Regions from separate parts of the Homo sapiens genome. Here region 2 is linked to region 1. The links come from fine-mapping of genetic effects on gene expression. A gene starts in region 1. The other region holds a variant in brackets. All regions are shown on one strand. Distances are from middle to middle.

Region 1 (16,377 bases):
CCTTCCTCCCTCCCTCCCTTCCTTTCTTCCTTCCCCTCTGTTCTCTTCCTTCCCTCCCTCTCTCCCCTCTGTCCATACATTTTTGTTGAGAACCTTTTCTGTGCCAGGTAGTTGCAGGCACTCGAGCATAGAGCCCCATGTAGACCTGGCCCCTGTAAGCTGACCTGCAGCAGGCCAGACCAGGCCCCATGTGTGCACCCTCCTCTCCTGGCCTTTGTGTCCTCCTTAACTAACACGGGCTCTCTTGTCCCCCTGCCTTGGTACAGGCCCAGTTTGACCTGGCCTTTGTCGTCCGCTACAAGCCTGATGAGCAGCCCTCACTGATGCCACACCATGATGCCTCCACCTTCACCATCAACATCGCCCTGAACCGAGTCGGGGTGGATTACGAGGTGAGCAGGAGCCAGCCGGGGTCAAGGGGCCGGCAATGGGGATGAGGAGGGCTAGCTGAGGAGAGGCTTCAGGGTGGTTGAGGCAGAGGGGCCCCAGGTAACCAGTGCCAGAGAACCAGAAAAAAAAGGATGTGGGTCTGTGGGAGGGCTTCCTGGAAGGGTTCACAGTCTAGCAGGAGGAGGGGCCAGGCTCTTAAGCTACTATTTTAAGAGATTTTTGGGCTCGGCATGGTGGCTGATGCCTGCAATCCCAGCAGTTTGGGAGGCCAAGGCAGGCAGATCACTTGGGGCCAGGAGTTTGAGACCAGCCTGGCCAACATGGCGAAACCCCATTTCCACTAAAAATAGAAAAATTAGCTGGGCGTGGTAGCACACACCTGTAATCTTAGCTACCCAGAAGGCTGAGGCATGAGAATCTCTTGAACCCAAGAGGTGGAGGTTGCAGTGAGCTGAGATCATGCCACTGCACTCCAGCCTGGGCAACAGAGCGAGACTCTGTCTCCAAAAAAAACAAAAAGAGGTTTTTTGAACTTAGCCCTGGGCTGGGTGCTGTGGAGAACACTCATAAAAACAGCTATAATCCTTTTTTTTTTCTTTTTCGAGACAGGGTCTTGCTCTGTCACCCAGGCTGGAGTGTAGTGGCATGATCACAGTTCACTGCAGCCTCAACCTCCTGGGCCCAAGCAATCCTCCCACCTCAGCCCCCCCAAGTAGTTGGGACCACAGGCGTGTGCCACCATGGCCAGCTAATTTTTTTTCTTGCTTTTAGAGATGGGGTTTCACTATGTTGCCCAGGCTGGAGCTATAATTTTTTGAGAGCTTACAACAAACATATCAGGCATCCCTAATCCAAGGATTCTCAACCAGGAGCAACTGTGGCCTGCAAGGGACATTGGCAGTACCTGGAGACATAATTGGTTTTTACAACTATGAGGGGCTACTGGCATCTAGTGGGTAGAAGTCAGAGATGCCCGGGACAGCCTTCCACAGCAAAGTGTCTATAGTGGTGAGGTTGGGAAGCTTGATCCTCAGCTCTCAATTGTAACATCTCATTTAATTCTCACTATCCTGTTCTGTTTAACCCTCATTTTACAGAAGGGGAAACTGAAGCTCAGGTTGGTCACAGTTAGTAAAGAGTGGAGGTGATGTCTGCCCAGGGCTGCCTGACTCCAAGGACAGAGCTCTTGATCACTTACTCTTTGGGTTTTTTTTTTTTTGAGACAGTCTCATTCTGTTGCCCAGGCTGGAGTACAGTGGCGCGATCTCGGCTCACTGCCTCCTGGGTTCAAGTGATTCTGTCTCAGCTTCCCGAATAGCTGGGATTACAGGCGTGCGCTGCTACACCCAGCTGGTTTTTGTATTTTTAGTAGAGATGGGGTCTCACCATGTTGGCCATGCTGGTCTTGAACTCCTGACCTCAGGTGGTCCACCCGCCTTGGCCTGCCAAAGTGCTGGGATTACAGGCGTGAGCCACCACTCCTGGCCACTACTCTTCATTTAGTGTCTTCCTTAGCAGCGCTTGTGGCTGTCACTCCAGAAGGCATCCCCAGGCAGGCAGTGCTGAGGGCCACTTGGCCATGACAGGAGATCATGACGGGAGAACAGACGGGCAGGGGGGCGGTGGGGAAAGGCCACTGATGCTTTCTGTCTCCCAGGGCGGGGGCTGTCGGTTCCTGCGCTACAACTGTTCCATCCGAGCCCCAAGGAAGGGCTGGACCCTCATGCACCCTGGACGACTCACGCATTACCATGAGGGGCTCCCCACCACCAGGGGCACCCGCTACATCGCAGTCTCCTTCGTCGATCCCTAATTGGCCAGGCCTGACCCTCTTGGACCTTTCTTCTTTGCCGACAACCACTGCCCAGCAGCCTCTGGGACCTCGGGGTCCCAGGGAACCCAGTCCAGCCTCCTGGCTGTTGACTTCCCATTGCTCTTGGAGCCACCAATCAAAGAGATTCAAAGAGATTCCTGCAGGCCAGAGGCGGAACACACCTTTATGGCTGGGGCTCTCCGTGGTGTTCTGGACCCAGCCCCTGGAGACACCATTCACTTTTACTGCTTTGTAGTGACTCGTGCTCTCCAACCTGTCTTCCTGAAAAACCAAGGCCCCCTTCCCCCACCTCTTCCATGGGGTGAGACTTGAGCAGAACAGGGGCTTCCCCAAGTTGCCCAGAAAGACTGTCTGGGTGAGAAGCCATGGCCAGAGCTTCTCCCAGGCACAGGTGTTGCACCAGGGACTTCTGCTTCAAGTTTTGGGGTAAAGACACCTGGATCAGACTCCAAGGGCTGCCCTGAGTCTGGGACTTCTGCCTCCATGGCTGGTCATGAGAGCAAACCGTAGTCCCCTGGAGACAGCGACTCCAGAGAACCTCTTGGGAGACAGAAGAGGCATCTGTGCACAGCTCGATCTTCTACTTGCCTGTGGGGAGGGGAGTGACAGGTCCACACACCACACTGGGTCACCCTGTCCTGGATGCCTCTGAAGAGAGGGACAGACCGTCAGAAACTGGAGAGTTTCTATTAAAGGTCATTTAAACCACTGAAGGGAAGATGCTCAGGGCGAGTGGGTGTGTGTGTGTCTTGGTGTGAGTGTCTGCAGGGAGAGAGGTTTTAAGAGCCCTCTTTTTTTTTTTTTTTCTTTTTTTGAGACAGAGTCTCACTCTGTCTTCCAGGCTGGAGTGCAATGACGCTATCCCCGCTTTCTGCAACCCCCGCCTCCTGGGTTCAAGTAATTCTCCTGCCTCAGCCTTCCGAGCAGCTGGGGCTACAGGCACCCATCACCACGCCTGGCTAATTTTTGTTTTTTTATTAAAGAAAGGGTTTCACCAGGTTGGTCTGGCTGGTCTTGAACTCCTGACCTCAGATGATCCACCCACCTCGGCCTCCCAAAGTGCTGGGATTACAGGCATGAGCCACCGTGCCCGGCCAAGAGCCCTCTTTTTAGAGCCTTTAAGAAAGGTCATGCTAGCCTCTCGACCCCTGAGTAGCTGGGATTATAGGTATCCATGCCTGACACATTTTTGTATTTTTTGTAGAAACGGGGTTTCATTTCACCGTGTTGGCCAGGCTGGTCTCGAACTCCTGACCTCAGGTGATCCATCCGCCTCGGCCTCCCAAAGTACTGGATTACAGGCGTGAGCCACCATCCCAGGCCTGAAAGTCTTTTAAAAAAGATTTTTGAGGCCAGGCACAGTGGCTCACACCTGTAATCCCAGCACTTAGGCTGAGGCAGGCGGATTACCTGAGGTCAGGAGTTTGAGACCAGCCTGGGCAACGTGGCGAAACCCTGTCTCTACTAATAATATGAAAAAATCAGCCGGTTGTGTTGGCATGCGCCTGTAATCCCAGCTACTCGGGAGGCTGAGGCAGGAGAATCGCTTGAACCCAGGTGGTGGAGGTTGCAATGAGCCAAGATTGGGCCACTGCACTCCAGTCTGGGTGACAGAGCAAGACTCCATCTCAATTAAAAAAAAAAAAAGATTTTTTAGTCTTTTCATTTTCAAAATTGACTCATTGTAAATTCAAACAGCACAAATCTTAATCTTTCTGTCATCCTTTCCCCCCAGCTGCTCAGTTCCTCTCTCTGAAAGCCACCATGTCTAATCTGTTTTTTGAACGTTCTTGAGCTGGTTTGTGCCGACACAAGCCTGTGTGTGTGTTTGTGTATGTTAGGGTTATTTTTGTTTTTGTTTTTGAGATGGAGTCTCACTCTGTCGCCCAGGCTGGAGTGCAATGGCATGATCTCGGCTCACTGCAACCTCTGCCTCCCGGGTTCAAGCAATTCTCGTGCCTCAGCTTCCCGAGTAGCTGGGATTACAGGCACCCGCCACCACGCCCAGCTAGTTTTTGTATTTTTAGTAGATATGAGGTTTCACCATGTTGGCCACGGTGGTCTCCAACTCCTGACCTCAGATGATCCACCTGCCTCGGCCTCCCAAAGTGCTGGCATTACAGGTGTGAGCCACTGTGCCCGGCATAGGGTTGTTTTTAACTGTTAACTTTTTTCTGATTACAAACTCATCTTCACCATGAAAAAGTCAAACAAAATAGGTAACATGGGGGGCCGGATGCTGTGGCTCACATCTGTAATCCCAGTACTTTGGGAGGCTGAGGCGGGTGGATCACTTGTGGTCAAGAGTTTGAGACCAGCCTGGCCAACATGGCAAAACCCCCATCTCTACAAAAAAATACAAAAATTAGCCAGGTGTGGTGGCAGGTGCCTGTAATCCCAGCTACTTGGGAGGCTGAGCTGGGAGAATCACTTGAACCTGGGAGGTGGAGGTTGCAGTGAGCCAAGATTGCACCACTACACTCCAGCGTGGGTGACAGAGCAATAACCTGTCAACAACAACAACAACAAAAAGTAATATGGACCGGGTGCAGTGGCTCATGCCTGTAATCCCAGCGCTTTGGGAGGCTGAGGTGGTAGGATCACTTGAGGCCAGGAATTCTCAACCAGCATGGCCAACATGGCAAAACCCTGTCTCTATTAAAAATACAAAAATAAGGTGGGCTTTATGGCACATGCCTGTAAACCCAACTACTCAGGAGGCTGCAGCACGAGAATCGCTTGAACCCGGGAGGCAGAGGTTGTAGTGAGTTGAGATTGTGCCACTGCACTCCAGCCTGGGTGAGAGAGCAAGACTCTTGTCTTAAAAAAAAAAACAAAAACGTAAGAAAGAAAGGTCTCCTGGAGTTGTACATCAGTGTGCTCTGCACCCATTCCCAATAACACTCAGCACTGCTAGGAGAGTTTTGTCATCCCGAGGGTTGAAACGAGGATTCAGCCATCTCAATGAGAAACACATGTTAATGGGTTGAAACATATCTCCAAACTGAGATTTCCTCTACTTGCTGGGCAAGTATGCAGATGTGTTTCAGAGATAAAGCCCAGCTGCTGGGCAGAGTACAAGACTAAATGCCTGGGAATGGATTCAGAGGTTCCTACAGCAGTCCAGGCAAGTGACCAGGACCTAGACCAATGCTTGCAGGGAAATTTAGGGAAGAGGAGGGAGTGGGCAGGGGAGATGTTTAGGAGAGAGAACATCCAGGCTTTCACCTGACGGGCAAGATTCTGCTAAAAAGGAAAAGGAAGGCTGGGCGTGGTGGCTCACACCTGTAATCCCAGCACTTTGGGAGGCTGAGGCGGGTGGATCACCTGAGGTCAGGAGTTTGAGACCAGCCTGGCCAACATGGTGAAACCCCATCTCTACTAAAAATACAAAAATTAGCCAGGCATGGTGGTGCACGCCTGTAATCCCAGCTAGTGGGGAGACTGAGGCGGGAGAATTGCCTGAGGCGGAGGTTGCGGTGAGCCAAGATGGTGCCACTGAGCTCCAGTCTGGGCAACAGAGTGAGAGCGAGACTCTTTCTCAAAAAAAAAGAAAAAAAAAAAAAAAGAGGAAATGGAATTTATAGTTCCTGCCCTCAGAGAATGGAAGTGGAATTTAGAGTTCCTCTCCTTAGGGAGTCCAGAGATTGTGGAGGAGGAAACAATCCGACCCAGTACCAGGCAGCTAGCAGCTGAGGCCCCAAGGCACGCTACATCCCAGACAGGGCCCTGTCTACACCCTGAGGCTGAGTCTGCGTGTGGCCCCACAGTCCACAGTCAGACCCGCGGGGCACTAGGCTACTCAGAGGGCAGTGTGGGCAGGACAGCTCCCTTTGGCCATCGTCATGAGACTGATAAACCAGTCACTTCTATATCAGAGTACTGATTTGCCTCTTGAGGTTGTTTGTGGCAATAAATTGAGGTTGTTCTACCATGGTTATAGAGCAGCACCATCCCACAGAATTACAGTTTGACCCACAAATGCAAGCTACTTATGTAATTTTAAATTTTCTAGTAGCGACATTTTTAAAAAGAAACAGGTGCAATTAATCTTAGTAATGTATTTAACCCAAATGACCCAAAATATTATCACTTCAACATGTAGTCAGCATATAAATAGTAATGGGCTAATAGCCCTGCACTGTGGCAGGTACCTGTAACCCGGCATTTTGGGAAGCCGAGGCAGGAGAAGATTGCTTGACTCCAGGAGTCCAGGAGTTCAGGACACCAGCCTGGGTAACAAAGTGAAATGCTTCCCCATGTCTACAAAAGATAAATACTAGGCATGGCTGCAGCATCTGTGGTCAGCTACTTGGGAGGCTGAGTGAGGTGGGAGGATTACTTGAGCCCAGGAGTTCGAGGCTGCAGTGAGCCGTGATTGCACCACTGCACTCCAGCTTGAGTGAGAGTGAGACTCTGGCTCAAAGATAGATTTTTTTTTTCTTTTTTGAGACGGAGTCTCTGTTGCCCAGGCTGGAGTGCAGTGGCATGATCTCGGCTCACTGCAACCTCCACCGCCCGTGTTCAAGCGATTCTCCTGCCTCTTCCTCCCGAGTGCACTATCATGCCTGGCTAATTTTTGTATTTTTAGTACAGACGGGGTTTCACCATGTTGGCCAGGCTGGTCTTGAACTCCCGATGCACCCGCCTCGCCCTCCTAAAATGCTGGAATTACAGGCTTGAGCCACCGCGCCCGGTCGATATTTTTTTTTCCTAAAAATTGAGATAGTTTAACAGCCTTTTTTGTCCTAAGTCTTATAGCGCATCTCCGTTTGCACTGGCTCAGGACTCGAGAGCCACACGTGGCTAGTGCCTACTGTTCTGGCGCGCTCAGGCTTGGAGCCTTCTCTGCGGAGGCCAAGTCCTGCAAGGGATCTGTTTGCTGCGGTTTCCTAGTAGTGTCTGCCGCATCACTGGGGCCCGGTGATCTGGGTAACCATGTGAGCTTGGGTAACCTCTCCTCTCCCTCTCCTGGGACTGCTGTGGACGTTAAATACAGCGGTGGATGTTAGAGACGCAGTTCAGTCACTGGCATTGATTCGCCGTTGTTGCTGCTCTTCTTTCCTCAAAGGCGACTGAAGGGCAGCAGGCCCATGCTCGCTTCTGTCTGCCCGATGAGTCACTTCACCCTAGGCCTGGCCCTCTAGAGAACACTCCTCTAAGATTACAGAATGCAAATCTGGATTCCAGAGCTGGCAGAGGCCCCAGGGTCAGGCTCTAGGACAACCGGCGAAAAAGCGGGAACCTCTACTCCACGCCCTTGGTTTTTCGCCCCTTGACAGCTTGAGGCTCCGCCCCGCTTTGCCCCGCCCCCCCAGCTCCGGCCGACGCCCACCGGAACTACAGCCCCCATGATGCAGTGGGAGTCCGAGCCTCTGCGTCGTCCGCTTGGGACGCGCCGGCGGAGGAGTGGCGCGCGGAGGAGTGGCGCGCTGAGACGCCGCTCGAAGCGCCGAGTCGCGGGGCAGCAGAGGCGTAAGGAGTAGGCGGGGCGAGCCGGCTGGGCTCAGGGTCCACCAGCTCACCCGGGTCGAGGGGCAATCTGAGGCGACTGGTGACGCGCTTATCCACTTCCCTCCTCCCGCCTCCCCCTGGGGTGGCGCTCGCTGGTGACGTAGTGAGTGTGATGGCCGCCGCGAGGCCGGGAAGGTGAAGGTGAGAGGGCGAGCAAGCCGGGGTGGCGGGGACTGGCCCGGCCCGGCCCGGCGAGTCCTGAGCAGCTCGGCGTGGGCCGACGGGATTCTGGGGCCACGGGGGTCTGGGATGCAGTCAAGCGGGGTCCCCACTCTCCGGCCTCGCCGCCGGGCCCTCCCCGGCCCTGAGAGGAGGGGGCGGGCCACGGGACCTGGGACTGGTCGGTGGGGTCCCCTGTAGCTTCTCATCGCCCCCGCCTTTCCACCCTTCACGGCCATGTTCTACCCCTGCCCCTTCTCTATTTTTCATCCTGTCTTCATTTTGCCAGCATTTACTCAGCACCTGATAGGTGTCCACGTTCACCGCGGGAGCGCCCTGCCATCCCCACTTTGGGCAGTTACTGCCTTCTCGTTCAGCCCTGTTTACTTATATGACTTCTCACCGGACTGTAAGGCCCTGGAGGGCAGGACTGTTTCTTATCCATTTCTAACGTGGCGCCTGACACACACAGAGAAGGCACACAGAAAATGTTGAATAAATAGCTGTTAAGACGCACGAAGGCAGAACTGCCCGTTACCCCCTCTCGTAATCCTTCATTGCCCTCTTTAAATTCTCAATCATCTCTCTCTCTTCTACCCAGAAAAGGGCTCTGGTTATCTCTTTTCTACCCAGAAAAGGGCTCTGGTTATCCGCCTCTGGTGTCCCAAGGTTTGGGGCTTGGGGGAGGAAGGCAGCTCAATGTAGTTAAAAAAGGAAGGAGGCCGGTCGCAGTGGATCACACCTGTAATCCCAGCACTTTGGGAGGCTGAGGCGGGCGGATCACCTGAGGTCAGGAGTTGGAGACCAGCCTGGCCAACATGGTGAAACCCCGTCTGTGCTAAAACCAAAAACTAGCCGGGCTTGCTGGCACACGCCTGTAATCCCATCTACTCAGGAGGCTGAGGCAGGAGAATCGCTTGAACCCGGGAGGCGGAGGTTGAGCCGAGATCGCGCTGCTGCACTCCAGGAGCTTTGGAGTCAAAGGGAGCTAATATTTCAGATCCCAGCTTAGACAAATCTTCAAGTATTCCAGCCCTCTGTCCCACAGAATAGAGAATTAAGTGAGATACTTTACAGTAGCTGAACACATTGGCTTTCAGTCAGTTCTTCTGTTCCTCAATAGTCAGCTGTTCCACAGTCCTCAAGCCCAGTTTTGTTCCTAGTTTTGCTCTGTCCTCTTCTCCCCTCTCTGGATGTACCTTTCCCAGGGCTCCTGCAGGGACCTCCGTGGTGCCTCAAACCCGCACATGGCGGAATACGTGTGCACAGTCAGGATTGGTCCCACACCTCTGCGTTTTTTTCCCCAGGGCACTTCCTCACATGCCAGCGCAACTCCCCAATACCTCAATGAGTAAGCTTCCCTCAGGGATGAGTTTGTTTGGCTTGAAACCTGATTAGACATGTTTTGTACACCAGTGTTTTTTTTTTTTGGACACCGGATCCATCTCCCTTTTCTTTTCTAATAAGTCAGGACTGGTGGAGTCAACACAGTCAATCAATAGCCAACCTCAACCTGAGACAGGACAGAAGAGAACTCAGAATCTTTTTGTCTTTTGGACTTCAGCCATGTCCATGATGCCTACCCTGTGAAGATCTCTCACCATCCAAAAAAGTAAGTAGTAGCTGTGACTTCTGGCACCCTGGATTTGAGCTGAGTGGACAGGGGTGTGCTCTCCTGGACCTCTGGTGGCAAGTCTCTTGAATGGCATCCTCTTTGTATAGAGCCACAGCTTTCTAACTTGTGTTGAAAAACTACCGTATCTTTTACTTCCGTGAAGGATTTCGCTGGTTGCTTAGAGAGCCTGTTTAAAAGTTGACAGTTCAGAAGTGGCTGGGATCTCTTGGGCTCCCTGAAGAGTTAGTCTCTGTCTCCCTCATTTGGTCTCTGCTGTGCTGGCTCTTCCCCATCTCGGCCCAGCACAGGTTGGCTCCTTGTCACTGCTCTTTTAAGACTCTGCTCTGTCCCCTTTACCCTGTATACTCTTTTTGTTTCGATTTCTCAGCTTCTCCTCTTTTCCAGTTGTGCCAGCAGACGATCCGTGGATCCATTTTATTTTCCCTGCTAGGAGTTGCTGTACATAACACTGGGTAAGGAGGTGGTGTGGATTCAGGGACTGTGCTTGGGATCCAAACACACCTTGCAGTGAATTTTGCTACTGCTGTCTCTACACCCAAGATACCTAATACTCCTCAACGAATAGCCTAGGTTGAGGCAAAGCTGTTGACCACCTTGGAGGGCTAATAGCAGTTTCCATTTAGAACTGGGTTCATTTCTGGTCTTAGGTTAATATTTATTAATACTGTGCCCTGGCACTTTTTAGGGGTAGGGGCAGGAGAGTACCAGAAAGAGTGGGCTTTTCCCTAAAGTGTGATCCTCGGGATTTTAAAAGCTATTACACAGAAGGGTTTTTTCATTGATTATATTTGTGAAATGCTGAATTCAACACAGTTAAACTAGTGTCTTTACAACAAGGCTTCCTTCCCAAACTCTTTTGCTGTGCTCACGTGCTCCACTGAGGAAAATGGTAGCATATGGTGTTTTTTGTTTGTTTGTTTGTTTTTTGTTTTTTTTGAGACAGAGTCTTGCTCTGTCACCCAGGCTGGAGTGCAGTGGCGCGATCTTGCAGTGGCGTGATCTTGGCTCACTGCAAGCTCTGCCTCCCAGGTTCACACTATCCTCCTGCCTCAGCCTCCCGAGTAGCTGTACTACAGGTGCATGCTGCCATGCCTGGCTAATTTTTTGTAGTTTTAGTAGAGATGGGGTTTCACCGTGTTAGCCAGGATGGTCTCGAACTCCTGACCTTGTGATCTACCCACCTCGGCCTCCCAGAGTGCTGGGATTACAGGCGTGAGCCACCGCGCCTGGCCTAGCATATGGTGTTTTACAAACTGATTCTACTATTGAACCTTCTTTACATGGGATATTGGGTGCAAGTCGAGTTCTGTGGACCACGCTTTGGGAAGTGCTGCCAGAAACTATCCAAAACAGTAATCTCCAGAGCACTTATGAGGCAGTCACAGCTTGAAGTGTGACGCTTAGTGTGTCACTGATGTTGGAGCTGGGCTCTCAGGCTATGCTTGCAGGATGGTCCCCACGTGCCTGTGGCAAGGTCTGTGGTGAAGCAGAGATTATCAAGGCTTTCCAGAGGCAGAGGAGGAACCCAGCTGCCCTGCATCACCCTGGAGGAGTAGGGAGTCAGCAGTCAAAGCCTTGAGATAATTGGGGAACACAGGATGTGATAAAAACCAGAAGTCTGTGATGTTGTTTGTTCTCTATGAGGCATCAGAGGAGGCTTCATGGAGCGGGTGACACTTGAGTTGGGTCTAGAAGGACAGTAGGAGTATGCCAAATGGGTGGAAAAGGAAGGAGGATTCCAGGCAGAAAGCAGCTCATGCAACACAGATGTGGAATCTCAGCTTGCAAGTTAGCAGAGCCAGATAAATCAGGCAGAGTTTGGAGGGGTTGACAGTAGGTTTTACGCCAGGGGTTTGGATGCAGCTGCAGGCTGGGTATTAGTGAGAGCAGGGAGGCTCCTGGACCGGCTGAACTCCCAGCAGACCTTGTAACCTGGAGCTCCCAAGCTTCTACTGGTGTACACGCTGTCGAGTCTTGCAGTTAGTGAGCACTAATGCTTTTGGTTTTATATCTCCTGGGCTTGCAAACATTGACCAGAACTTAAAAGCACCTGCTTCTGATGGCAGGGAACTTGCTTCCTGCAGCAAGTCACTTCTGGAGTGGGGTATCGCTGATCCTTCCCCAGCTGACCTGTTTATTTGATCTCCGTGATAGCGGGTAAGGGAGTGGTGTGTGTGGTGTGAGTTGGCGGAGTTGCCTCTGCCCTCCCTGAAGGCTGGGTGTTCATGGAGAGAGTCTTGTGATCTTGCTGGTAGAGTTTGTTGTTATTGTTTTATAACATGTAAAGCTGCCTTTAGCTCTTACTGTAGTGAAGCATGTTGCTTGCGTCATCAACTTTAGTCTTCTCACAGTTTAGATGGTATTGTGGTATTAGGATATTGGTTTTCATCCACGGATCCAGGCTCATAACTCCTATCCACAGCCCTTGTTATGGTTTTTTGATATAATGTTAGATGTGTTAGGCCTCAGGGGCAGGCCTCTGACCTTCTGCTCTCCTTCCACCCTAATCTTTCCCCACCTGATTGTGGGCCTTAAAACCCTCCCCTGAGAGGGGTGGACCCTGTATCCTGGGGGAAGGAATGCTGATGTCATGAAGCTTCCATAAAAATCCAAGAGGACAGAGTTCAGGGAGCTTGTGGATAGCTGAACACACGGAGGTTCCTAGAGAGAGGCCTGCTCAGGGAGGGCACAGAAACTACACGCCTCTTCCCCCATACCTCGCCCTAAGCGTCTCCTTATCTGTATCCTTTGCGATATCCCTCATAATAACCTGGTAAACGTAAGTAAGTGTTTCCCTGGGCTAGGTAGGCTGCTCCATCAAATTAATTGAACTCAAAGAGGGGGTCATGGGAACCCCAGCCTGAAGCCAGTCGGTGAGAAATTCTGGAGGCCCAGACTTGCAACTGGTATGTTTGAGGGGTGGTGGTGGAGAGGCGGGGCAGTCCTGGGGACTGAGCCCTCAACCTGTGGGATCTGACACTCTCTCCAGGTAGACAGCATGGGAACTGAATGAGAGGATACCCAGCTGCTGTCCGCTGGTTGGTGTGTGGGGAAGAAACCCCCTCACATTTGGTCACAGAAGTCTCTTGTGTTGATGATTATGGTGTGAGAGTAGAGAAAAAAGATAATTTGAGACAGTTTCTCTCTCCAGTAGGTGTCTTGTTTGTTGTACACATGAAGAAACCAAGGTTCTGTGATGAAATAACTTGCTTAAGTTTAAGCAGCCCAGAAATAATGTAGTCACAATTTGAACCCAGCTCTGCCTGATTACAAAACCTGTCATAGGTAGTGCTATATCATGCCCCATCCTTGATCCCTTTTTTTTTTTTTTTTTTTTTTTTTTTAAAGAGAGAGACTTCGCTCTGTCACCCAGGCTGGAGTACAGTGGCGAGATCTTGGCTCACTGCAAATTCTACCTCCCAGGTTCAAGTGATTCTCCTGCCTTGGCCTCTGGAGTAGCTGGGACTACAGGCATGCGCCACCACACCCAGCTAATTTTTTGTATTTTTCATAGAGACGGGGTTTCACCATGTTGGCTAGACTGGTCTTGAACTCCTGACCTCAGGTGAGCTGCCTGCCTCGGCCTCCCAAAGTGCTGGGATTACAGGCATGAGCCACCGTGCCTGACCCCTGATCCCTTTTCTATTCCTTTTGGATGGCTTTCCTCTTGTGCCTGCCACATCCCCTCTTTCTCGAACAGTCTGATCTGCCAGGCCATGGCAAGCCTCATTTCAGCGCACTCTCCTTTGCTGCTTTGGAAGAGTGAGAGTAGCATTTTCTTTGCAGTTTCCTTTCTCAGAGCTGTACTGTCTTTAAGCCCTGGACATATGGCTTCCATGCTGAGAAAACATCTCTCATAGCTGTGGCGTCATGCTGAGGAGGAATGTAGAAACGGAAGTGGGGTCACTTCCTTCCCTTGTCTCCAGAGGAATCATTAACATTGCACAAGAACTTGTTGGTTTGGGCACACATGTGGGTCCCTATCCCGCTTTGGGTCGGTCTGTCTTCTGCCCACTCTTTGGGATGGTTAGTTACTAAAAGTCCGTTTTGGCATTTGGTCTTCATGTACCTCTTCCGGGTGTTCTTTCTGCTTTTCAGGACCTTGTGCAACATACTTTGGCCCCATTTGGAAGTTTTTCACGTGTGCTTGCTGGGGAGCAACACCTCATTTCCAATCTAGAGAGAGTGAGCTTACTGCTGGGTGGAGAACTGAGCAGTAAGATTAGGGTGGCTGGGGAGGCAGTGACAGACCCAGGCACAGTCAGCTGTGCACACACCCCCTCATCCAGGAGGGCCTTTGCCCTTTGACTTCCTGGGATTGGTGGGCTCTGCTCAAGAAGTAGCTTTCGCCGTGGTGGGAACTCTGAGGGACCTGGCAGGGGTCCACTTTTGGGGTCGGAATTCCCAGTCTTACCCTGGGCACTCCTTCTGGTGTGTACGCCTCTTTTTGATCTTTTTTTTTTTTTTTTTGAGATGGAGTCTTGCTCTATTGCTCAGGCTGGAGTGCAATGGCGCGATCTTAGCTCACTGCAACTTCCAGCTCCCAGGTTCAAGCAATTCTCGTGCCTCAGCCTCCCGAGTAGCTGGGATTACAGGTGCCTGCCACCATGCCTGGCTAATTTTTGTATTTTTAGCAGAGAAGGGGTTTCACCATGTTGGCCAGGCTGGTCTCAAGTGATCCACCCGCCTGGGCCTCCCAAAGTGCAGGGATTATAGGTGTGAGCCACCATGCCCAGCCTCTTTTGACCTTTGACCAAAGACCTCTAGGACTTTGGAGTCAAGTCTCATGACCTCTAAAATGTTGTTATATGAAAAGATAAGCTACAAAGATATGTAGGATTGAGTGAGAGCAAGAGAGACAGTCACACAAAAATAGACTGTGATAATATGGCTGGGTACGGTGGCTCACGCCTGTATTCCCAGCACTTCGGGAGGCCGAAGCAGATGGATCACTTGAGGTCAGGAGTTTGAGACCAGCCTGGCCAACATGGTGAAGCCCTGTCTACGAAAAATAAAAAAATTAGCTGGGTGTGGTGGTACATGCCCGTACTCCAAGCTACTCAGGAGGCTGAGTGAGGCAGGAGGATCGCTTGAACCTGGGAGGTGGAGGTTGTAGTGAGCTGAGATTGCACCACTGCACCCAGCCTGGGTGACAAAAGTGAGACTCTGTCTCAAAAAAAAAAAAAAAATTATAATAAACAAAATGTTGGGCCGGGCGTGGTGGCTCATGCCTGTAATCCCAGCACTTTCGGAGGACAAGGTGGGTGGATCATTTGAGGTCAGGAGTTCAAGACCTACCTGGCCAACATGGTGAAACCCCACCTCTACTGAAAATACAAAAATTAGCCGGGCATGGTGGCGAGTGCCTGTAGTCCCAGTTGCTTGGGAGGCTGAGGCAGGAGAATAGCTTGAACTCGGGAGGTGGTGGTTGCAGTGAGCCGAGATCATGCCACAGCACTCCAGCCTGAGCGATAGAGCAAGACTCTGTCTCAGAAAAAAAAAAAAAAAATGTTGGCTGGGCATGGTGGCTCACGCCTTTAATCCCAGCACTTTAATCCCAACACTTTGGGAATCCAAAGTGAGAGGATCATTGGAGCCCAAGAGTTTGGGAGCAGCCTGGGCAACATAAGAAGACCCTGTCTCTACAAAAAATTTTAAAAAAATTAGTGGGGCGTGGTGGTGCATGCCTGTGGTCTCATGTACTCAGGAGGCTGAGGTGGGAGGATTGCTTGGACCCAAGAGGTTGAGGCTGCAGTGAGCTGTGATTGCGCCACTGCACTCCAGCCCAGGTAACAGCGAGATCTTGTCTCAAAATAAAAAATAAATAAGTAAATAAAATGTTAACATTGCTTATCACAAAATGATGGGGTTATGGGTTTTTTTCCCCTTCAGTTTCCAAATTTTCTGTAGCACACCTGTGCTATACTAAAATAGACCAATAGTTTTTGTGTGTGTGTGTGTGTGTGTGTGTTTTTCTTTGTTGAGACTTGGTCTGGCTCTGTCACCCAGGCTGGAGTACAGTGGTGCGATCTCGGCTCACTGCAACCTCCGCCTCCCAGGTTCAAGCAATTCTCTGCCTCAGCCTCCCAAGTAGCTGGGATTATAGGCGGCCACCACCACACCCGGCTATATTTTTTTGTATTTTTAGTAGAGACGGGGTTTCATCATGTTGGCCAGGCTGGTCTTGAACTCCTGACCTTGTGATCCACTTGCCTCAGCCTCCCAGAGTGCTGGGATTACAGGCATAACCCACCATGCCTGGCTGTTTTTTTTTTTTTTTTTAAATAGAGACGGGGTCCTACATTGCCTAGGCTTGTCTCGAACTCCAAAGTTCAAGTGATCTGCCTGCCTTGGCCTCTCAAAGTGCTGGGATTATAGGTATGAGCCACTGAACCTGGCCCCTAACCAATAGTGTTTTTATGTGGTCTTGCTCTGTCTCCCAGGCTAGAGTGCAGTGGACTGATCATAGGTCACTGCAGCCGAAACTCCTGGGCTCAAGTGACCCTCCCACCTCAGACTCCCAAGTAGCTAGGACTGCAGATGCATGCCACTGTGTCATGCTAATTTTGTTTTATTTTTTGAGACAAAATCTCGCCCTGTCACCCAGGCTGGAGTACAATGGCATGATCTTGGTTCATTGCAGCCTCCATCTCCCAGGTTCAAGTGATTCTCCTGTCTCAGCCTCCCAAGTAGCTGGGATTACAGGTGTGTGCCATTGGGTCTGGCTAATTACTGTATTTTTAGTAGAGACGGGGGTTTCACCATGTTGGCCAGGCTGGTCTTGAACTCCTGACCTCAGGTGATCCACCTGCCTCAACCTCCCAAAGTTCTGAGATTACAGGGG
Region 2 (11,491 bases), 35 kb after region 1:
AAGAAAAAAAAAATGGATGTGTACCACGTACCTCATGGATGCCAGATGGTGCTGGAGGCTCAACAAGACACAGCGTCGCTGCCTTCAAGGCACTTGCAGTTGAAGGCATGATGGCATCACAGTACTGCGAGACTGCAGTTCACAGCGCCCTGTGCTGAACCGCAGGGCCTACAGCGCTTAACATGTGCTATTTCACTCAGTCTTCCCTATTTCTCCATTTTCTACATAGAAATGTTGGGGAACTTGTCTGGCATCTCAAAAAATGGCCAGGCTAGGAGGGGAGCCCAGGTGTACTTGGCTCCAGCAGCCCCCGCACTCTGATTCTCCTTACCTGCCACTCTTTGGACCCATGAAGAGGGCATAGCCCCCCATTTACCCACAGAGAAGCTGGTTACTTGGCTGGGGACTGGCAGAGCTGGGATTGGAACTCAGATCTCCATGGGGTCTCTGTGGAGCTTTCATTAATAATTTGCTGGAAAGAACATCAGTCTGAGGAGTCTGGAGTCCTGGGTTCTCTCCAGCCACTCATGTTTGGCCCAAGCTCTTAACTCTCCTGTGTCTCATTATTTTCATCTGTAAAATGGGAGTAAGATTTCATGACACAGCTGCATGACTGAATGTAAAAGTGCCCTGCAAAAGTCCTCGGCCTGCCCAGCTCATGATAACATCAGCACACGGGGACCCTGCAGAAGTCCTCGGCCTGCCTAGCCCATGATAGCATCAGCACACGGGGACCCTGCACTTCCTGCCCTCGCCCCTGACGTCAGAGTCTGCAGGGTGGCAGAGCCAGAGGGGAGATGGATCAGAGGGTGTCAGCTCCAACCCTCACCGGATCACTGGGCTTTCCCTGCCCTCGACTGCGGATGTGCCCCCCCCGCACCCCCACCTGGGGACAGCTGCTTCCTAGGGACACACTGCTTGCCCTCTGGGGACTCTCAGAAAGGGGGAATGGGGGGAACTGCTGCTTGTCAGCCACAGTGACACAGCTGAACCTGGAAAGGGTCTCCTGTCAGCACCTCAACCCCTTGCTTGGCAAGCAGGGAAACTGAGTTCCCGACAGCTCAGGGACTTGCACATGGTCCTGGGTGAAGGAAACACAGGGCTTGAGAATCAGAAAAGCCTAACTTGTAGCTCCCTGGCTTATTAGCCGTGTGGCCTTGGGAAGTTATTTAACCCCTCTGGGCCTCCTTTTCCCCATCTGTGAGACAGGGATAAACACGATTGTTGGAGGATGATGTAAGGGTGTGTGTCAAGCGTCCTTAGGATGGTGCCTGGCGGGTAGTCCTAATACTGCCTATCATCAGCTATCATGGTTACAAAAGAACCATTTCTTTGCAGGAATAAAGCCGGTTGGTTGGACAGTGAGCTCAACATGTTCACACACCAGTACCTGCAGCCCAGCAGATAGTGGGCACCTGAGGCGGAGTCTGCGTGGAGAGGGGCGGTGCTGCCAGCCCTAAGTGCCATGTGGGCTCCCCCAGGGGCACGTGTGGCTCCTGCCCCCTGGCCACTGCCAAGAGAATGAAGCACCCAGTCTCGTACCATTTTGAGCCCTCCAGCACTACTTATTTTCCCCCACCTTTGCCTGCTGTTGCTGGAAGAGCTGGCTCATACCCCCAAAGGACACTTTCAGCGACAGCTATGGACAGCATGGTACCAAGGAGTTAAGTTGAGGCTTTTTCCAGCTTTCTCTGGTTCATTTGATTGCTTGATAAGGCCTCAGGATCTCAGCATTGCACAATGCCTCATGGAAGCCTTTGAGGGTATCACACAGACACCCCCACCTTCCTCCAGCCTGTGCGCACCTGCCCTCCTTGCAGCCCAGCACACCTGCAGGTGTAAGGGACGATTGGAGTTTCTTCCCAGAGAGTCTGTCCCAGAAGGACTGTGGCTTGTGTGTGTCCATCTCGCCTGTTGGCTCAGTGCTTCATCCCATTTGCAGAGCCTCAGACACGTCTTGGTGGTGAGGCTCAGTTACCCCTGGGCTTAGGCTGAGGCGGGCCCTGTGCTGGGGGTGGTAGAAAGGATGCTGCTGAGGCAGCTGGAGGAGTGGGAGTAGCTCAGAGGGGAGGGCTGTTGGATGTATGGGGAGCTGGCAGAGCAGGTGGCAGTCACTGGGACAAGGAGGGACTTGCCTCTCTTCTCATTATTGTGTCCTTTGCTTTAGTGTCAGTCCTGGACTTGTGCAGGCCTGTTTTGTGTAGATCTGTTTTGGAAGATGGCATGGTCTAGGTGGTTGAAGGATGTAGTAGAAGGATGGATGGTGGAAGGTGGGGACGTTGGTGGCTGGCTGAGGTGCATGGGCCCCACACAGGACAGCTGGAGAATGGGCCGTCCACTTGGCCTCGTTCTGCGAGGGGCTCATGGGTCTGAGAGCCCCCACCCACTAGGCTTGATTGCATCCCTGTTGTGCCCTTTAAGAGACATGTTTCCACCCCACCCCCAACCTTGTCCCAAGTGCCCTGGACTAAATTTCCTGTGCCAGTGACTGCAGTTGGCCAAGGGACAATGTGGAAAACCCAGTGTCCATCTTTCCACCCTCCCTGATCTCCAGAACCTTCGACTGACCCCCTTGTCTTTATGCTGATGTTGAGTTTTGGGATTGTTACTGGTTGAAGTGGGGGCAGATGCCTGTCACCAAGGTGTTGACTGTGTGAGAAAAGCAGTTTGGGTGACAAATCCTGTGTGGCACAAGTTGGATCGCTTCCTAGAAATAAGCAACACCTCTCCCAAAAAGCAGCCCACAAGGCAGGGGCCCAGCAGCCCAGCCATCACTCATCTTTGAGGAAATGAGTTGGTAGCCTCTGTGCACTGTTTGGTGGCCACATCACAGGTGATGTCCTGTTCACATACCTGCTTGTATTTAAAGCCCTCAGTCTGTCCTGTTGTGTGGGGCGAAGTGATGGACTCTGCCAGGTGGACATGCTGTGGGTGGATGTTCCCGGCGTGTGCCGGGCCTGAATGGACAGGGGCCACTTCACAGCATGTCAGGGAAAATCACTGTCACACAATTCCAATGGATTTTGTGCTCTTTTTGAAAAAAAAAAATTCTTTAGCGTAAACATGAATTTTTTTTCAATGTAGCCCCTGGGGAATGAATGAAATTTTGAGCTTCTTCAATACGTAAAATTAAATTTATACCACTGAGGGAGAGACCCTTTCTGAAAGAAGTATGGCCAAAAGCACTTTAATGCTGCTGACATTGTTGTTTTTATGTTCATTTGCTGGAGCGCAAGACGTGCTGACACAGTGAGTTTTCTCTGATGTATTTAAGGTGATGTATTTGCTTGAGTTACTCCTGTATCATTGCTCATAATATTGGAAACTAAAATAAAACCTAGTTGGAAATCCTTTGTGAGATCTGTCTTTTTGGGTTCTTGTACAAACTCCTCTTTGACATGGCCAGCTGTATTCTGAAGTGACCATAACTTTGGGGAAGTTCCCACTATAATCTGGCTCCTTATTCTTGGAAGGAATTTGATACTCTCAAAAGAACAGATGGTTTAACTGATCTTTAAGGATCAGGAAATCGAGACTGATTTCTTTACAGATTTCTCTGTAACTCCAGACCATTTTTCACTTAAAAAGTAAATGACTCACTGTTCCATCCTGCTTTGCCTTCTGAGAATTTGGTTGCCACTATTCTTTTTTTTTTTTTTCTTTTTTGAGATGGAGTCACGCTCTGTCGCCCAGGCTGGAGTGCAGTGGCACGATCTCGGCTCGCTGCAAGCTCCGCCTCCCGGGTTCAAGCAGTTCTCTGCCTCAGCCTCCCAAGCAGCTGGGATTACAGGCGCCGACCACCAGGCCTGGCTAATTTTGGTATTTTAGTAGAGACAGGGTTTCATCATCTTGGCCATACTGGTCTCAAACTCCTGACCTTGTGACCCACCTGCCTCGGTCTCCCAAAGTGCTGGCATTACAGGTGTGAGCCACCGCTTTTTTTTCTTTTTTTTTTTAAGGGTCCTCAGGAGTAGATACAGGGGTAGTCAGTCAGTTTCCCCGCCCCTACAGCTGTCCTCTTGGCTCTGGTGCTGCCCAGTGTCCGCCCTGCTCGCCCACAGAGGCCACAGCTCAGCTGATAGCAACCTCATCCTTCCAGATTCCCAGGCTACACACTTGGGGCATCACCCTCGAGTCCACGGTCACACGTGCTGCACCAAATCTGTCACCTGCTGTCTTCCAAGTCTGTTGACCCTGCCCAGTTTCCTCACCTCCATCATAACCATCAGCCCGGATCTAGGTTCCTGTTCCTGCCTTGTCCCCGCCTATCCTCGCCATCTTGTGGCTGTTTCAAGGCAGCAGCCAAAGACTTTCTCAGGTAACAAAAAAAAAATGAATCATTACCTTTTTTTTTTTTGCAATCCACAAAACAAGTAGTTTCTGTCATTAACAAGATGTTATGTACAACCCACTAAATTGTTCACGACAGCATCATCCCGGGTGATGAGCCATAGTTTGAAAAAGGGCCTTCTTGCCTTATGCAAATGCTGCTTAGTTATTCCCAGTCAAGGCCAGCCTCATTCCTGTGCTTTCTCTGACTACCTCATCTGTCCACTGGCGAATCTGAGAGGCTGGAAGTTTTAGCCCTCTGGTAACAATGTCCCTATTTAATCACAAAAAGTAGGTAGTCAGGAATGTTCCACTGTGTCCCAAGCACTGGGGTGACAGCCCAGGCAGCTCTCTCGGAGAGCATCTGGCTTCATAATGTGGCCTCAGAAGCAGGGCCCTCCTCGCAGATGTCAGCTAAGTTGTTCACCGTGTCCTCAAGTGGATGGTTTCCTGTGTCTAAGTGGGACTCTTAGGCTTGAGATAAGAACAGCGAACTTTGAGAGTTTAGTATGTCAGAC[AT/A]TTCATACGCATGAGCCCTAATCTCAAAATCCAATGGTCTATTTTCCCTAATTTCCTCAAATGAGGAAGTTCATTAATTCAGCAAAATATTTGTGCACTTACTATGTGCTAAGCATGGTTCTAAGCACTGGAGATATAGCAGTGACTAAGGTGGATAAAAATCTGCCCCTGGGGCCAGACGCGATGGCTCACGCCTGTAATCCCAACACTTTTGGGAGGTGGGCGGATCACGAGGTCAGGAGTTCAAGACCAGCCTGGCCAACATGGTGAAACCCCATCTCTACTAGAAATACAAAAATTAGCCAGGCTTGGTGGCGTGCACCTGTAATCCCAGATACTAGGGTGGCTGAGGCAGGAGAATTGCTTAAACCTGGGAGGTGGGGGTTGCAATGAGCCGAGATCACGCCATTGCGCTCCAGCCTGGCAACAGAGGGAGGCTCCCTCTCAAAACAACAACAACAACAACAAAAATCTCACTCACTGATTAGTAACCTTTTTCAGTTACAAAGAAAAACAACATACTCGCTAAACTCCCTAACATCAGGAGCCATCAGGCAAATTATCTCAAGTCTTGATTTACAAACCAAACCCTTATGCCTCTGATTACACAGGGGACCGGTCTGACAAACTTTTTTTTTTTTTTTGAGGTAGGTTTTTGTTGGCTGGAGTGCAGTGGCGCAATCACGGCTCACTGCAGACTTGACCTCCCAGACTCAAGTGATCCTCTCACCTTAGCCTCCCGAATAGCTGGGATTAAAAGTGTGCGCCACCATGCCCGGATAATTTTTTGTTTTTTTGTAGAGACGAGGGATCTCACTATGTTACTCAGGCTGGTTTCGAACTCCTGATCTCAAATGATCCTCACACCTTGGCCTCCCAAAGTGCTGGGATTATAGGTGTGAGCCACCATGTCTGGACACAAATATTCTTTTTCTTTTTTTAATTTAATTTTTCAAATAGAGAATGTATGTTGGCTGGGCACAGTGCCTCATGCCTGTAATCCCAGCACTTTGGGAGGCTGAGGTGAGAGGATCGCTTGAATTCATGAGTTTGAGACCAGCCTGGGCAATCTGGCAAAACCCTGTCTCTACAAAAAATACAAAAATTAGCCCAGCATGGTGGTGTGCACTGGTAGTCCCAGCTATTCCGGGGGCTGAGGTAGGAGAATCACTTGAACCCAGGAGGTGGAGGCTGCAGTGAGCCGAGATTGCATCACTGCACTCCAACCTAGGCAACAGAATGAGACCCCGTCTCAAAAAAAAAAAAAAAAAATAGATGGGATCTTACTGTGTTGCCCAGGCTGGCCTCTAATTCCCAAGCTCAAGTGATCCTCCTGCCCCAGCCTCCCAGAGTGCCGGAACTACAGGCATGAGCCATCACACCCAGCCAATAAACATTCTTTTCTGATAAGCAACTGCAGAACTTAAGCCAGTTTCAGCCAGCTTACAGAAGCTGTGAACAACCTGTTTAGCCAATGCACATGAGCTCACCTCCTCTCATAAATATGTATACAGCTTTTCCCTCAAACCTGCTAAATATGTATGAATATGGGCCCTGTGAGGCATAAAACCCAACCTGTCCTTTCTCTCTTGGAAGAGAGCACCTTCAGTGCATGCTGCAAACCATCTCTTCCTGGTTTGCAAACAAGTATCAACAATAAAGTGCTCCTTTCTACTATTTAGCCACCCTGGTGATCTTCTAGACAACATTATGCGTATTTCTGCTAGGAACATTAGTGTTCAAATCTCTGTGTAGGCAGATGTTTTCATTTTTTGTAGGTAGATATCTCAGGCTGGACTTGCTGGGCCATATGGTAAATTTATGTTTAACTTCTACAGATTTTGTGAAGTGGTTATACTGTCTTATATCCCCACCAGTAGTGAATGTGGGTTCATATATATATATAGTTTTTTTTTTTTTTTTTTTTGAGACAGTCTTACTCTGTCACCCAGGCTGGAGTGCCGTGGCACAATCGCGGCTCACTGCAACCTCCGCCTCCCAGGTTCAAGCCATTCTCCTGCCTCAGCCTCTCGAGTAGCTGGGATTACAGGTGCCCACCACCACACCCGGCTAATTTTTTTCTATTTTTAATAGAGACGGGGTTTCACCATGTTAGCCAGGCTGGTTTCAAATTCCTGACCTCAACTGATCCGCCCGCCTTGGCCTCCCAAAGTGCTGGGATTACAGGCCTGAGACGTCGTGCCCGGCCTCATTTCATTTTTTAGAGCATCACAAACTACCTCTCCAGCTCATCTTGCTAGAGTTACTGCATAATCCATGCATTCCTGCCAAGGATCAGCCATCTTCTTGAGTCGGAGGGCTTCCTGCTAGCTCGGTGCCTGGTGTTATCACCCTCGGCTCTTCTGGAGGTAGAGGGGCTACCTATCTTCTTTTCATTCTTTTTTTTTTTTTTTTTTAATTTGAGACAGAGTTTCACTCTTGTTGCCCAGGCTGGAGTGCAATGGTGCGATTTTGGCTCACCACGACCTCCGCCTCCCGGGTTCAAGCGATTCTCCTGCCTCAGCCTCCCGAGCAGCTGGGATTACAGGTATGCGCCACCATGCCCGGCTAATTTTGTATTTTTAGTAGAGACGGGGTTTCTCCATGTTGGTCAGGCTGGTCTGGAACTCCCGACCTCAGGTGATCCGCCTGCCTGGACCTCCCAAAGTGCTGGGATTACAGACGTAAGCCACCGCGCCCAGCCAATTTTTGTATTTTTAGTAGAGACGGGGTTTCGCCATGTTGCCCAAGCTGATCTTGAACTCCTGACCTCAGGTGATCCACCCGCCTCGGCCTCCCAAAGTGCTGGGATTACAGGCGTGGGCCACTGCGCCCGGCCCCAGTTTTTCTAAGTTATATAGTTTAGGTTTCACAACTAGATCTATGATCCATTCTAGGTTAATTTTTGCATATGGGTTTCTTTTTTTTTTTTTTAGGATGAGTGTGTGGATATCCAATTATACCTACAACATTTGTTGAAGACACCATCTCTTCTTGTTTTCCCAAGTTTCCACACACATTATTGATAAAATAAATTTTTTTGGGGGGGGTGCTGGGTGTCGCTGGGCTGTAACTCCTTACCTCAAGCCATCTGCCCACCTCGGCATCCCAAAGCGCTGGGATTACAGGCGTGAGCCACCGCCCCGGGCCGAAGGCATTATCCTTTCTCCACTGAATTGCACTTTCATTTTTGTCAAAAATTAATTGCTCACATATCGGAACTCTATTCTGTTGCATTGATCCATTTGTCTACCTGGACGCCAATACCACACTTTCTTTCTTTTTTAAATTAATTTATTTATTGAGACAGGGTCTCTCAGTCAGGGTGGAGTGCAGTGGTGCAATCAAAGCTCACCACAGCCTCAGCCTCTTGGACTCAGGTGATCCTCCCATCTCAGCCTCCCGAGTAGCTGGACTACAGGTACGTGCCTGGCTCATTTTTTGTAGAGACGGGGTTTTGCCATGTTGCCCAGGCTGGGTATCTTTTTTTTTTTTTTCTTTTTTGAGATGGAGTCTTGCGTCTTGCTCTGTCATCCAGGCTGGAGTGCAGTGGCGCGATCTCGGTTCACTGCAATCTCTGCCTCCCTAGTAGCTGGGTTCAAGCGATTCTCCTGCCTCAGCCTCCCTAGTAGCTGGGATTACAGGCGCCGGCCACCTCGCCCGGCTAATTTTTGTATTTTTAGGTTTACTGGCGTGAGCAACCGCGGCCGGCCCCAATACTACACTTTCTTGTTTACTGTGTAGTCCTTATCTTCTGGCGCAAAGCGGGCACTCGCTAAAAACCTGAATGAAAGTATAAAGCAGGCCGGGCGCAGTGGCTCATGCCTGTAATCCCAGCATTTTGGGAGGCCGGGGCGGGCGGATCACGAGGTCAGGAGTTCGAGACCAGCCTGGCCAACATAGTGAAACCCTGTCTCTACTAAAAATACAAAAAAAAAAAAAAAAAAAAAAAAAAAAAAAAAAAAAGCCGGGCATGGTGGCGCTCGCCTGTAGTCCCAGCTACTCGGGAGGCTGAGGCAGGAGAATCAATCGCTTGAACTCGGGAGGCAGAGATTGTGGTGAGCCGAGATCGCGCCACTGCACTCCAGCCTGGGCAACAGAGTGAGACTCCGTCTCCAAAAAAAAAAAAAAAAAGAAAAGTATGAAACGATGAGTACAATGAGTAGCCAGCCGCCTGCCCCACCTACCCCGCCGCTCCGGACTGCCGCCTGCGCCGAGCCTAGGCCGCCCAGCCTGACTGAAACTGCCGCTGCTGAACTCAGCGTATCCAGTCCCGCAGCTGACCAATCGGAGCTCGCCCTTCCGGGGCCCGCCCCATTCCAGGAATCGACCTCCGCACCGGCCTCGAAAATTGACCAATCGGTTGTGTAGCTCCGCTCTTAGTCCCGCCCCCACGCTGAAACTGACACTTCGGATCGCCGAGTAACGCTCACCAGACGTCCCGGCCCTGCCCCTCACCTGACCAATCAAGACGGCCGGCCGAGGCCCCTGGAACGGCTCAGGCGGCTGCGGCTGCTACGGCGGCGCATGCTAGGGGATTCTGCCGGGTGAGTGCTGGGCGGCAGGACTGGGGTGGGGCGGAAGGGCTCGGCAGGAGGCCCCACGTGCATTCCCGCGAGGGGCTCGGGGGCCGCAGTGGAAAAGAAGGGTAGGCTGCATCTGCCTCTGCGGGGGTCCCGCCTCGGCGTCCGCCCGCTCGCCCTCTGTTACTTCTGCGGCCCCGGTGTTTCTGGAGCGTCGCTTTCCCGGTGTCTCCGCTCAGCTTTTCCCTTTCCAAAGCGCGGCCGGGGCCAGGGGAGGGCAAGGCCTGCTGTGCCCTTTGACCCCGTGCGAAAACGGCGACCCTCTGACTATAGGGGTGTGGCCCAGAGCCACTTGGCCAGTTAGGGGTGGGGGCCGGGATCTTTGTCCTGCGGATCAAACAGTTGGCCCCTCTGGACTGCATCTCCGTGCCCCCCGGCCCTGCGGGGTAATATACGTGTGTGGGGGAGGTTCCGGGGTAGTCGGCTACTCTGTGCTCCAGACCTTGCACCCGATCCTGAGGATCCTTGGAGGTGGGGGGCAAGGGCTGGGAGGAGGAGGCGGAGTTTTCCCAGGCTCCCCCACACTTCCAGGGAAAGGCTTTCCAAGAACCCTGAACTCATGGACCCTGGAGTCAAATTTTGGTTCAGATCTAGCCTCTTGCTAGCTGTGTGACTTGGGGCAAGTTGCTTAACTTCCCTGAGCTTTGGTTTCTTCATATGTAAAAAGAAAGTGAAGGAGGAAGGGAGGGCAGGAAAGGAGGAAGAATCCCTTTTGAAGCCTGATTTGTGTTGGACTCACCAGTTATAAAGCAAGCTTGTCCAAACCACTGCCCAGGAGGCGGAGGTTGCAGTGAGCCAAGAAAAAAAGGAAGCATGCCCTTGCCCCAGCCATTTTGGTAATAATAGACGTTTATTGAATGCTTACTGTATACCACTGTAAGCACTGTATTAAGTAAGCACTGTACTGAGTGCTTTGTTTTTTGTATTTTGTGTGTGTGTGTGACAGTCTTGCTCTGTCACCCAGGCTGGAGTGCAGTAGTGTGATCTCCACTCACTACAACCTCCGCCTCCCAGGTTCAAGCGATTCTCCTGCCTCAGCAGCCTCCTGAGTAGCTGGGATTACTGGCGCCCACCACCACACCCGGCTAATTGTTTGTTGTTGTTGCTGTTTTTGAGACGGAGTCTCACCCTGTCGCCCAGGCTGGAGCGCAATGGTGCGATCTCGGCTCACCGCAACCTCTGCCTCCCGGGTTCAGGTGATTCTCCTGCCTCAGCCTCCCGAGTAGCTGGGATTACAGGCGCGTGCCACCACGCCCGGCTAATTTTTGCATTTTTAGTAGCGACGAGGTCTCTCGCCACGTTGGCTAGGCTCATCTCAAACTCCTGACCTCAGGTGATCCTCCTGCCTCAGCCTCCCAAAGTGCTGGGATTACAGACGTGAGCCACTTGGCCTGTTTTTTGTTTTTTTTACAGTGATGCAACCATGGCTCACTGCAGCCTGGGTCTCCTGGGCTAAAGCTATCCTCCTGAGTAGCTGGGGCCACAGACAAGTGCCACCATGGCCAGCTAATTAAATTTTTTTTTGGCCAGGCACTGTAGCTCATGCCTGTAATCCCAGCACTTTGGGAGACCGAGGCAGGCGGATCACAAGGTCATGAGATCGAGACCATCCTGGCTAACACGGTGAAACCCCGTCTCTACTAAAAATACAAAAAATTAGCTGGGCGTGGTGGCAGGCGCCTGTAGTCCCAGCTACTCAGGAGGCTGAGGCAGGAGAATGGCGTGAACCCGGGAGGCGGAGCTTGCAGTGAGCCGAGATTGCGCCACTGCACTCCAGCCTGGGCGACAGAGCAAGACTCCATCTCAAAAAAAAAAAACAAAAAAACAAAACAAAAAAAAATGTTTCTACAAATGTTGTCCAGGCTTAACATGCTTTCTTTAATTCTAACAACAATCGTATGAGGTAGATACTGTTGTCGTCCAGCAGATGAGGAAACTGAGGCACAGAGAAGTTAAATAACTTGCCTGAGGCAGTACAGTTAAAGAGTGTCGAATGGGGGTCTCTGGCACCACAGGGCACCCTACTGAGCCCCGTGTCCTGCTGTCTTGACTTCAGGTAG

Evidence for each region. PIP is the estimated chance that this variant, and not a neighbour inherited with it, causes the effect.
Region 2: its variant is fine-mapped to the expression of MFN2 in whole blood (INTERVAL, PIP 0.91).

What each region holds. Positions count from the first base shown.
Region 1 is chr1:11,972,606-11,988,982 of GRCh38, forward strand. It overlaps MFN2 (mitofusin 2), which reads left to right and starts at 7,839. Exons shown (of 19, transcript NM_014874.4): 1 at 7,839-7,879; 2 at 9,365-9,509. It overlaps PLOD1 (procollagen-lysine,2-oxoglutarate 5-dioxygenase 1), which reads left to right. Exons shown (of 19, transcript NM_000302.4): 18 at 267-392; 19 at 2,048-2,932. The coding sequence ends at 2,203. RefSeq lists silencers at 7,455-7,714, 7,885-8,124 and an enhancer at 9,581-9,680.
Region 2 is chr1:12,010,158-12,021,648 of GRCh38, forward strand. MFN2 (mitofusin 2) reads left to right here. Exons shown (of 19, transcript NM_014874.4): 19 at 1,339-3,351. The coding sequence ends at 1,408. It overlaps MIIP (migration and invasion inhibitory protein), which reads left to right and starts at 9,341. Exons shown (of 10, transcript NM_021933.4): 1 at 9,341-9,395; 2 at 11,488-11,491. RefSeq lists enhancers at 9,001-9,050, 9,128-9,998, 9,171-9,250, 9,999-10,869. The variant AT/A (reference allele first, on the strand shown) is at 4,848.